Linked DNA regions of Homo sapiens. The protein of the gene in region 1 purifies or fractionates together with the protein of each later gene. This does not show direct contact. Each region holds a gene or a part of one and is shown on either strand. Other genes may lie near its edges. The genes, in order: CASTOR2, CCDC124 and MIOS.

The links.
Region 2: the proteins of CASTOR2 (region 1) and CCDC124 fractionate together in Homo sapiens (co-fractionation; one large-scale study listed by BioGRID). This does not show direct contact.
Region 3: the proteins of CASTOR2 (region 1) and MIOS purify together in Homo sapiens (affinity purification with western blotting; one study listed by BioGRID and IntAct). This does not show direct contact.

What each region holds. Positions count from the first base shown.
Region 1 is NC_000007.14:74,963,217-74,967,523, forward strand, and holds the start of CASTOR2 (cytosolic arginine sensor for mTORC1 subunit 2), read left to right. Parts: upstream 1-1,488; 5' UTR 1,489-1,769; coding exon 1,770-1,882; intron 1,883-4,307. UniProt on the Homo sapiens protein: Functions as a negative regulator of the TORC1 signaling pathway through the GATOR complex. As part of homodimers or heterodimers with CASTOR1, directly binds and inhibits the GATOR subcomplex GATOR2 and thereby mTORC1.
Region 2 is NC_000019.10:17,939,444-17,943,055, forward strand, and holds part of CCDC124 (coiled-coil domain-containing protein 124), read left to right. Parts: intron 1-3,212; coding exon 3,213-3,402; intron 3,403-3,612. UniProt on the Homo sapiens protein: Ribosome-binding protein involved in ribosome hibernation: associates with translationally inactive ribosomes and stabilizes the nonrotated conformation of the 80S ribosome, thereby promoting ribosome preservation and storage.
Region 3 is NC_000007.14:7,565,657-7,569,773, forward strand, and holds the start of MIOS (GATOR2 complex protein MIOS), read left to right. Parts: upstream 1-1,227; 5' UTR 1,228-1,416; exon of another isoform or gene 1,417-1,950; 5' UTR 1,951-2,032; intron 2,033-2,369; 5' UTR 2,370-2,467; intron 2,468-4,117. UniProt on the Homo sapiens protein: As a component of the GATOR2 complex, functions as an activator of the amino acid-sensing branch of the mTORC1 signaling pathway. The GATOR2 complex indirectly activates mTORC1 through the inhibition of the GATOR1 subcomplex.

The DNA.
Region 1 (4,307 bases):
ATTAGCCAGCCGTGGTGGCCAGCACCTGTAATCCCAGCTAGCTGGGAGGCCAAGGCACGAGAATCGCTGAACCAAGGGGGAGGAGGTTGCAGTAAGCCAAGATCGCGCCATGGCACTCTAGCCTGGGCGACAGAGCAAGACTCCATCTCGGGGGGGAAAAAAGAAAGTTAAAAAAAAAAAAAAATTAGCCAGGCATAACTGTAGTCCCAACTGCTGGGGAAGCTGGGGTGGGAGGATCTTTTAAGCCCAGGAGTTCGAGGCTGTAGTGAGCTATGATTGCGCCCCTGCACTCCATCCTGGCCAACAGAGCAAGACCCTGTCTCTAAAAAATAAATAAATAAAAGAAAAAGAGTAAAAGAAAATAAAGTGGGAGGGGGATATGCATGCTCTAAGATCTATCTACCACAGATTACAGGCTTTTCACCCTTTTGTGGAAATGACAAAACCTAGTATGTTCCTACCTAACAGAGGAGGGCTGAGGGAAGGTGAGGGAGCACAACTGCAATTTTCCCCTGAAAGAGAGTTCTCAGCCTGCCCTGGCAGATAGATCTCACCCATCGCGTCCCCAGATTACTCTGCCAAAGGTGGAAGCACCAATCACTTTAACCCAGAACATTTCAAAACCAGACAGCCATGAAGGAGGAACCTCTGTGGTCCCGGCGCGTGGGCCCTGGGGTTGGAAGTGCCTCAGACGCACTTTACATTTTCCCCGAATTCACCCTTCGCAGTCCCCATCACCCCCTCTCCAGTGGGATAAATGGCCACCTCATTAGCTCTGCACACATGACCCTCCCGACCTGACTCCTGGTGACTATGCCTGCCTTATCTCTTTTCTCTCCTCCCTCACATTTTCCGCTGCAACAAAGCCAAACACAGCACCGTGGGGGCTTTCACGCTTCTGTGCCCTAGGACACGCTGTTCCTGCAGCCTGGAAGGCCTCTGTCCTCCATCCGCGCGCCCTCACTCTCTTGCTACGAACTCCCATTCATCCTTCAAAACCCAGCCTGAGTGTCCCCTCCCCCGGGTCACCCCCTTTGACCTGTCAATCCCCTCCCTCCGGGTCCCCAGCAAGCTTTTCGGTTTGGCTTCTCTGCACTCTCATGACCGATTGCCCTACATCTTGGCGCTCCCAGACTCGGGCCTTCTCCAGCACCGGAGTCGTCTGGTTTGCTCGCTTTACACTCCAAGCACCTAGTACCGAGCCTGACTGGGTGCCAGAGGGCGCGCCTAGGCTCAGGCTGGCTCCACCCGCCCCGTGCCTCCCCTCGGCCTTCCCCTTAGTCCTGAGGGTGCCCGCGCTCCTGCATTTCCCGTGCACCGGGCTGCCGGTAGCTCCGGCCGCCCAGCCCCCGCGGCAGCAACAGCAGCAACAGCACCGGGGGAGCCCCCCCCCAGGCGGACTACAAGTCCCGGCAGGCCGCGCGCGGGCCGCGCATGCGCAGCGGGGACCGGCGTTTGAGTGGCAAGTTGTTTGTTACAGCGAACACCAGCTGCTCCCCGCGCCGGGCGCCGCGCGCCGCTGCTCCGCCGCTCGGCCCCTCGGCTGCTGCTCCGCCGGCGCTGCCTCCCTCGCCCCGCGGCTCCCCCTTGCAACTTGGCGGGCCTCCTCCCTTTTGTCCGGCCCGGCCCGGCCGCCGCCGCCCCCCGCGCCCGGCGCCGAGCTCCCGGGTCTCCGGGCCGGCTGTCGGTGCCGGCAGGGCGCGGAGGGGGCGGGGGCCGCGGCTCGTCCCCCCGCGGATGAGCCGCCGCGGACGGGGCGCGGGCGGACGATGGAACTCCACATCCTGGAGCACCGGCTGCAAGTTGCCAGCGTCGCCAAGGAGAGTATCCCGCTGTTCACCTACGGCCTGATCAAACTTGCCTTCCTGTCCTCCAAGACCAGGTAAGCGCGCGGGGACGCGGCGCCGGCCGGGGACAGACAAAGGGGGCGCACCCCGGGCCGCTGTCCTCGCCGCCGCGCCTCGGAAAACAACTTCGGGCCCCGGGAGCGCCCCCGCCCCGCCCCCGCCGCCGCTTCGCTCGCGTCTGACAAAGCCGGAGCCGCAGGGTCCTGGCTCCCGGACCCCTCGCAACCTTCCACCCCCCGGTGCGCCACCCCCCACCTCTGTCGTCCCCCCCATCTCCCACCCCCTCCCCCATCGCAGCCCCCTCCCCGAAATCCGGGGGGCTGGGGCGGCTGCAGTGACGGATCCGTGAATGGATGAAGGAACGAACGAATGAATGAATGAAAAACAGGTGTGGGGACGAGGCCGTGGAAAAAACAAACGCCCCCATCCCCCCATCCCTCGGTTGGGCCGGCCCCGTCGCCACGGCGGGGGGAGGGATTCCGCTGAGCGCGGTTACCCAGAGCAGAAAATCATAAAATCATTAGTGGGTGTTTATCTCAAGGTGCCTACGAGGCTTGCTGCGGACGGCCTGGAATTGCGGGGGGGAAACGGGGGGTGGGCGAGGGCCAGGGAGGGGCTGCAGAGGACGTGATTCTTTCTCCTTGGGGTCCTGGAAAGGGGGTGGGGGGGTGTTTTGCCCAACCGTAGAAGGGGAGGAGCAGGCATGTTTATGCATCTGCCTTGAGGCTGGGCTTGGATGCTGCAGGGGGAAAAATAGTTGAAGGCCTTGGAAGGTAAAAGAGGGAATCACACACACACACACACACACACACACACACACTCTCTCTCTCTCTCTCTCTCTCTCTCTCTCACTTGGATTTTCCCTATGCCAGGTAAGGGTTTGACATTGTGAGCCCCGGTGGGTGCTTGCATTAGGGTTTTGTTGTTGTTGTTTAAGGAGCCTGAGCCGAGGGGAGTGTGAGTGCCAGCTAGCTGCTGTAACTTAAGTCTCATTTGCCCACCATTGTGACTGTTAAAAAGGAATGATAAAGTTGTTACTGGTTGGTTTTTCGCGGTTTGGGGCGGTGGTGGCTCTCCCTCACTGCAAAATGAATGAATACTTTTCGGGTCAAGGTTAGCGTGAAAATGACAGCCCCCTTAGGCTGCCCCCTTTGGCACTGAGCTCTAGGGACACAGGGAAATAATTCCAGCCTGTTATCTGCCTGTGAAAAGTTCTTGCTTGGAAATCTCACTTTGATGTGTGTGTCTGAGCCGGGTGCTCAGTCCGGCTATTGTTTGCGAGATGGAGCCAGACCTGCCGGTGGCATCTTGTTTACTTTCTTCTCCGGCTGCTCAGTAGGGGATGGAGATTTGAAATAGTCGCCAAGCCTCTGCCACGGAGCCTGTGCTCCCCGTTGATTGCAAAGGGTAATGATTAAACAGGTCATTTGAAAACAAAAGCCAACAGCTCGGATTCTGAACCGCGCCCCCACCCCTCACACAAAGCCCCCTCTGGCTGTTGACACCTTCAGATCCTGCTTCTGCCTGCCCTCTGCCCCCCACTCCCTAGCCGGGCTTGACGTTCCAAAGCTTGGAGGTAACAGAACAGCCTTGTTTTTCCTAGCCTTGGCCCTCAGCCCTGGGCAGCCCCCTGGCTGATTTCTCGGCCACCATTCAAATGAGAATGATGACTCAGGCTGCGGCTGTGCACAGGGCCTGGGTGCTGGAAGCGGGGGCATTTGGGGGCTTCTTAGAAAGGCAGCAAAGGGCAGGGTCCCTCAGCCCCTTTCCCTTGGTGGAGAGACTGGCCTTCTTCCAGCCCCCAACTCAGGATCCCCTTTGGGTACTCATGGATAGGCGTGTCTCTGGGGTCAAGCCCCCCTGCTGGCCTCTGGGAACACAAGAAGACCTGTCCCTCAGTGGGTCCCCCTTCCTCCCTCCTGCAGAAAGCAGCCTGTCCTGTCCCAGGCCCAGGTGACCCAGCTGACTAGTCCAGTTTCAAGATGACTCAGAGGCCAAAGGCCATCGCTGTGTTTCCATGGTCCGGCCTCAGAAGGTGCGGAACATTTGTCAAATGCCTGAGGACCTGCCACCCCATGCACTCTGAGCCCAGATCATGGCTTCAGGTCATGTGTGACCACAGCCCCCTGCCTGCCTGGCTGAGGCGAAGTCTGTCTCCTCTGGCTCACACTTCGTCCGTCTGTAAAATAGAGATAGCACTATTTGGCCCCCTCATGGACACAGAACTGCTGTGTGGATGGTGTGGGACGATTGTGGGAAATGGCTTTTTAGCAAGTGTTAATGGGTCGCAGCCTGCCGACATAGCATTTAAACTGTTTTCAATAATCAGCCATCCAGGTAGAACCCCTTAGATTGTTCCTGCAATCCCTGCCCCCAGGTGGTGACCCATAGCTCTGTCACTTCCCTCTCCAAAACCTAAGTTTAGCCCAGACTAGCACAGCATGCCCTGAGGGTCCCTGT
Region 2 (3,612 bases), on another chromosome or scaffold:
AGAGACCTTTCCGCCCATAGTGTCAAGATCATTGGCTTAATCCTCCCTGTGGCCTGCGTCTTGGCCACTGGGGTTGGCCCCATCCTCTGGATGAGGAAATTGAGGCAGAGAAGGCAGAAAGCCCAGATCACGTGGCTATGAGGAAGAGCTGGAGCCAGACTGGCACCTTCTCCTTTGTTAAGAGGCTTTTTTTTTTTGAGGCAGAGTTTCACTCTGTCGCACAGGCTGGAGTGCAGTGGCGCGACCTCGGCTCACTGCAACCTCTGCCTCCCAAGTTCAAACAACTCTCCTGCCTCAGCCTCCCGAGTAGCTGGGATTACAGGTGTGCGCCACCATGCCAGGCTAATTTTTGCATTTTTAGTAGAGATGGGGTTTCACCATGTTGGTCAGGCTGGTCTAAAACTCCTGGCCCCAAGTGATCCTTCCACCTCGGCCTCCCAAAGTGCTGGGATTACAGGTGTGAGCCACCGCACCTGGCCTTTTTTTTTTTTTTTTTAGACAGTCTCTGTTGCCCAGGCTGGAGTACAGTGGCGTGATCTCAGTTCACTGCAACCTCCGCCTCCTAGGTCCAAGCGATTCTTTTGCTTCAGCCTCCCAAGTAGCTGGGATTACAGGCATGGCACCATGCCTGGATAATTTTTGTATTTTTAGTAGAGATGGGGTTTCACCATGTTGGCCAGGCTGGTCTCCAACTCCTTACCTCAAGTGATCCGCCCACCTCGGCCTCCCAAAGTGCTGGAATTACATGCGTGAGCCACCGCCTCTGGCCTGTTAAGAGATTTGATTAAGGGACAGCAAAGCATGCCTGTCCTAGGAGTGTGGGTCAGAAAGCATGTACCTCTGAGCACACCTGTATTGCATGCATCCGGGACAAGGTATGGAGGGGGTTGGACAGGCAATTGGGGCCAGGTGGTGAATAGCTTAGACTTCACTTAGGGCCAGACAGGAAGCCACTAGACCCTATCATTGAGCATGAAGGCCACCACTGACAGTAGGTTAGCAAATAGGTGTGGCTGCATGCCCATAAAACTTTACCAAAGGGGCCGGGCATGGTGGCTCACACCTGTAATCCCAACACTTTGGGAGGTCAAGGCAGGTGGATTACAAGGTCAGGCGTTCGAGACCAGCCTGGCCAACATAGTGAAACCCCATTTCTACTAAAAATACAAAATATTAGCCGGGCGTGGTGGCGGGTGTGCGTAATCCCAGCTATTCCGGAGGCTGAGGCAGGAGAATCGGTTGAACCTGGGAGGCAGAGGTTGCACCATTGTACTCCAGCCTGGGCGACAGTGCAAGATTCCACCTAAAAAAAAAAAAAAAAGGGCCGGGCGCGGTAACTCATTCCTGTAATCCCAGCACTTTGGGAGGCCGAGGTGGGCAGATCACAAGGTCAGGAGATCGAGACCATCCTGGCTAACACGGTGAAACCCCATCTCTACTAAAAATACAAAAAATCAGCCGGGCATGGTGGCAGGCACCTGTAGTCCCAGCTACTCAGGAGGCTGAGGCAGGAGAATGGCATGAACCCGGGAGGAGGAGCTTGCAGTGAGCCGAGATGGCGCCACTGCACTCCATCCTGGGCGACAGAGCAAGGTTCCGTCTCGAAAAAACAAACGAACGAAAAAAACACAAAAAACCTTTACCAAAGAAGGCAGTTGGCTAGTTGGCTATAGTTTGTCAACCCCTGCTCTCTAGAATATTCTCAGCCCCCGTGAGTTTCCCTCATACCCCTCCTGGTCAGTCCCCCACCAGTGATACCTCTCCTCACTTCAAACATCATGCATTGGCCAGGCACAGTGGCTCACACCTGTAATCCCAGCACTTTGGGAGGCCAAGGCAGGCAGATCACTTGAGGTCAGGAGTTCGAGACCAGCCTGGGCAACATGGTGAAACCCCGTCTCTACTAAAATTACAAAAGATTAGCCAGGCGTGGTGGTGGGCACCTGCAGTCCCAGCTATTTGGGAGGCTGAGGCATGAGAATTGCTTGAACTCGGGAGGCAGAGGTTGCAGTGAGCCGAGATCGCACCACTGCACTCCAGCCTGGGCGACTGAGAGAGACTGTCTCAGAAAAAAAAAAAAAAAGGACCCTGTCTGAGGCAGAATGTGTGTGTGACACGCATCGGTCGGGGAGCCTCGGGACGTTGCCTCTGACCGAGGGGGAAACTAAGGCTCCTCAGCACAGCAATGGGAGCCCAGTTTGTGCACTCCAACAGCCTTGACTTTAACCGCCCCCTCCACTTTCCTGCTGTGCTGGTGGGGGTGGGGGTCAGGCCCTGGCAGTGTCCTTAGGTGCGTCCACCCCTATTCTGCGACATTCCCTTCTGTCAAATCTATCTGGAGATGCAGTGGTAGTGTCCCAGGGGGACACTGCAGGTGTGGGGATCGTCCCTGGGAAGGCTGAAGGTGTGAGAGTCAGATGGTGGAGTCTCAGGCAGTGAGGGGGCAGGCAGGGGTGTCCGAGACCAGGGCCCTGCAGGAGTGCCAGGCAGTGGGCAGAGTACTGCCCTGAGCTTCCAGCAGCACTGCATATAAACCGTGGGCTTGCTCGGCCCCCTGGGGTCCGTGCAGGCCAGGGCAAGGGCAAGTCCCGTAGCCCAGATGTCCCTCATCCAGCCAGCATCAGGGCTTCCCTGGGCGGCCGATGTGGAATCAGTTTCAGCCTCAGTGACCCACGGCAGGGAAACGTGGACAGTGCTGCCCGACTCATAAGGGCAGAGCCCCTGCCCTAGCCTGAAACGGGTCCAGGCCTCCCACGGCTCTTAGAATCCAACATGAACCCCTCCCTGGCCCCCAGAGGCTCCGCATGGCCCAGCCGTCTCCCTCCCGGCCTCTTCCCCCTCCCGCTTCACTCCCACTCCAGCCTCCAAGCTGTTCCTGTTACAACAAATGGCTCCTGCCTCGGCGCCTTTGCACTGGTAGCCCTGCTGCTAAGGACGCTCCTGTTCCCCAGCTCTCCCCCTTGGCCGGCGCTCTTCGCACCTAGGAGCGTCACTTCTTCAAGAGCCACCCACCCGCCCTGTCCAAGGTTCCCCTGTTGGCCTCACATCCCCCGCCCAGGGCAGCACCGGGACCTATCTTGTTCCTGGTATGTCCCCTGCACCCAGCACAGAGCCTAAATCCTCGTTGGCTGAGATGAAAACTCGAACCCCAGGCTAGTGGGTGGCGCGGGGGTGTGGGGTCTTCTGCCTGACCATGCACGCCGCCCCCGCAGGAGGAGAAGGAGAAGCGGCGCCTCGACCAGCTGGAACGTAAGAAGGAGACGCAGCGCCTACTGGAGGAGGAGGACTCCAAGCTCAAGGGCGGCAAGGCGCCGCGGGTGGCCACGTCCAGCAAGGTCACCCGGGCCCAGATCGAGGACACGCTGCGCCGAGACCATCAGCTCAGGGAGGCCCCGGACACAGGTCGGGCGGCATCCCGCTCTGGAGCTGCACTTTTGCCCACTGCAGAGGCAGTGGACCTTGAGTCCATTAGCCCCCTCCTGGCCCCCAGAGAAGCTGCCGGGGCTCCACGTGGTGCAGGGTGGGTGGGTAGGCCGCCTCCTGGTAGGCCTGGCCGTGAGCAGACAACCTCAGGGCTTGTGCCCCGCGGGGTCCTCTTGTTTGCAGGGCTGC
Region 3 (4,117 bases), about 67 Mb from region 1:
ATTCCCCAGGGCCCCCACTTCTCTCCATGCCCACTCTCCGTGCCACTGGTAACCTGCGTTTCTATCATCCCTCATTCTGATACTCTATCCCTCCAGCTCTCTGCGCAAAAACTGATCATACTGGCCGGGCACAGTGGCTCATGCCTGTAATCCCAGCACTTTGGGAGACCGAGGTGGGCGCATCACGAGGTCAAGAAATGAGACCACCCTCGCCAACATGGTGAAACCCCATCTCTCCTAAAAATACAAAAAATTACCTGGGCGTGGTGGCGCGCGCCTGTAGTCCCAGCTACTCGAGGTGCTGAGGCAGGAGAATCGCTTGAACCCGGGAGGCGGAGGTTGCAGTGAGGAGAGATCGCGCCATTGCATTCCAGCCTGGCGATATAGCCAGACTCCGTCTCAAAAAAAACAAAACAAAACAAAAAACTGATCATACCACTTGCCTGATTAAAAACTTTCGATGACTCTAACATTGCCTTTAGGTAAATGCCATCCAAACTCACTAAACTGGTTTCCAACCCGTTTCTGAAAGCACCTTAATCTCTCCCCACTTCCTCTGCTCATTCATCCATACCTACTGCCTCCTCACTGCTATGTCCTCTCTCCTGACCCGGCACTTGCTCTTTCCCAGTCCTAGAAGGCTCTTCTCTTCCAGTTCCCACTGCCCTTTTCCCTTTCCTGGCTAATCCCATACTCATCCTTCTTGTCTCAACCTAGTGGTCCTTAAGGAAGCTTTGCTGACCCCCGACACCGAGCGGGCGTCCCTCCTGTGTAGCACTGTGTTAGCCCTACCAAGTCAAGGCTCTCCTTGCCTGTTTCCTGCCGGAACCATGTCTTTTTACTTCACTCCTGTCTCCTCAGCATTCCAGCACAGTGCTGGGTACATAACAGGTGCTCAAGACAAGTTTGTGGAATGACTAATGAGTGAATAAATCATTAACCAAACACCTTGGATCTCCTACTACATCATTTGCAAAAAAAAAAAAATGTTTAATAGAAATTAAAATGGACCCAGTGAGCTAGAGTGTGTGACCCTGCTTAAAAACGACAGAGTGGTTCTGAGAAGCAGTCCCAGCCTAGGAACCCGGGGATCCGGCCTGTGGACCCACGGGCAGGGCCTGCGGGGTGCACCGGCGCTTTCGGGCGGAAGGCGGGGCCTCCCGGCCAGTGACCCCGCCCCGAGGCGCCTCCCGGGCGGGGAAGGGCGGGGCTCGCGCTGGGAAACTCCCCTTCCAAGGCCGAGGCGCCGCTGCGCGTCCTCCAGGCGTGGTGGTGGGGTCGTGGGTCCCAGCCCAGTGGTCCAGGTCACGGGCCGCACGGCCGCGGCCGCCATCTTGCCCGCGTCCGGGCTCCTGCGGCGGGCGGGGCGGTGTCCCGGCCGGAAGCGGCTGTGCGGCGGCCGCGCTGCCACCTCAGGTCAGTGAGCGCGACCCGGTTCGCGTCTCGACTCTCGGGAGCGCCGCGGCCGCAGCGAGGGGCCGGAGATAGCCTAGTTGAAAGGCCCGGGCGTCTCGGCGGGGAGCGCGTTCCGCGCTGTAGGGTAATCGCGCCGGGCGGCCGGCCGCCTGGCCGGGCCTCAGCGGGAGCCACCGGGGGCTGCGGGCGGCCGTGGGACCTGCGGAGACCTCCTCGGGGCGCAGGGAACACGCTACAGCCTTCGCCGCGGCGGGCTTGTGGGGAGCGGCGTCCCAGCCTTTCCCGGGAGGCTCAGCCAGGTGCCTGGAGCGGGAGAGTCGGACTCAGATTCCTGCTTTACCTAGAATAGCAACGTGCCCTGTTCCCGTTGTACCCTCTTAAATACTATACTTCTTAAACGGCCTGTCTCCCGGTGAGCTCTGTTCTCTTCTCATATGAGTAATGAAAATTAAGAGGATGAATGAAACCTCACACATGTTGTGGACTTTGCTGAATAGGTTAGCAAATGACTGCAGGCCTTTTGTATATTTTAAGGGAAATTTGGATATGTGCAGTGCATCTCCTCGAAGATGCTGATGGTGGAAATTTCTTGAAACCGCTCTCGTAATTTGCCACGGTAAGAAAAGTAAAAGACAACATCAAAAAGCATGTGGTTGGATCCTTTGTACACTGAGTAGTATTTTAATGTGTTGGACTTCACTGTCCAGTAGCCACATGGGATTGAGATGTGCTATAAGTGTAAAATACACATCGGATTTCCCAGAGTTGGTGCCAAAAAAACGTAAAAATCCTCAATAATTTTTGCATTGATTACATATTGAAAGGATAATGCTGTTGATATGTTGGCTAAATAAAATGTGTTTTTAAATTTCATTCCACCTAATTTTACTTTTTAAATGTGGCTACTAGAAATTTTTAAATCATATGGCTCACACTGTATTTCTTTTGGACAGTGCTGTTGCAAATATTCTGGTGAATGAACACAGAATCAGCATGGCTTTCCTTTGCTGAGAAATCACTGATGGGAAGTGAGACTTGTTAAACTTGAAAGGTGAGGATATAAATACAAGCTGTAATTATTGCAGACCGCACCCCTTCTACACCTAATTTTTTAATGTCTCCAAAATTTGGAAAAAACATTAACTTTCAGGGCTGATTAAGGGAATGGTAGTAATACTAACATCTGTGTGATGTGAAGAGCTCATTTCAGTTGATTGTCACAGCTTTGTGAGATGGAAATGGGATAGATTTTATCTCGGTTTTATGGTTTTGGAGTATTACAAGATTTGTTAGGATCTGAGCTGGGGAGTGGCTGTAGGATTTCTGACTCTAGATTGTTTTCTTTACACCAGATTCTTGGTGATGTATGTTCATGAGCAAGGAACTGTTTATCCTGTATATTACATGGTGAAAAAAAATACACTTCTTAAAAGGGTGGACATAGATGCACCTCTCTATACAGGGCTACTCTTATGATGTGCAACCTGTGCAGTAGCACAGAGCCCAGCATTTAGAATGGCTAGCACTTAGTTTAATGGCCAGTCTGCTGTCACTGTCTGGACATTGTAAATAATTTTTAAATGAGGGGCCCTGCATTGTTATTTTGCACCACGTCCTGCATATCGTGTAGCTGATCCTTTTCTTTGCAGTAATCTAGGACGGAAGTTGAGAGACCTTGGATAACCACCCAAACATCTGGTCTTCACTTTACTCCTTTGTGAAATTAGAAGATTTAGCTAGTCTTTTTCTCTCAAGTTTTGATTCTGTATGAATTACTGTCATCAGATTTTGTGGATGGCAATAGAAGTATTTTAGGTGCATAACATGGGAAGAAATGCTGATATTCTCCGTTGAGAGTCATGTAAATCAAAGTTTTAAATTTTATGCTAAAACTCGTATTTTATGTTTTGTAAGATGGATTTTTCTTTGTGGCATCAAGATTGCTTACCATAGACCATTGGTATAAAGAGTCGGGTTGTGGAATGAAAGCCTAGATAAAAAGTGTGTTTATTTAAACATTGATTTTTCAATGAGATGGGAAAATGGCCCAGATCTCATGATGTCTCCAATTAAGAGATTTCCTTTGTGGGGGTATGAGTATGAACCCTTATTTGGCAGTATCTGTTCCTCTTTGCTGTCGTAGCTGCTTCCTGTTACGTGAGGTGCCCCTCTTCCTCCTCATTCTTAAATTTTGAAACTCTTTTTAAGGTTGGACTTAATTTTATCACTACAGTGCAGGTTTTTTTTAGACCAGAGACTTCATCGGCTCATGTTTGCTGCTGTGTTCCCAGCTTCATAACCATGCCTAGAACATAGAAGGTGCCCAATCAATAGTCACAGAATAAATGAAAGTATAATAGCAGACATTTAAATCTTGGCCGGAGCCAGCCTCTCCTAGGGAGCGTAGAAGTGGAAGCATGAGGAAATAGGTAAAACTTGGAGATAGCAGTTGTGAGAAGTGTCAGAGGGATCATTCAGCACATGCATTTATTTAACAAATGTTTATTAACTTCCTACTAAGTGCCTAGCACTGTACTGGGGACTAGAGGTACAATGGAACACCAAAAATACTTCACCTGCTCTCATGGAGTGTATAATCCAGTAGAAGAGACAGAGATGGATGATTAAAGGGAAAGAATACTGTTTAATGACAGTGTATGTCTGAGTAACCAGACCTCGACTAGGGAGGGGATGGAGGGTG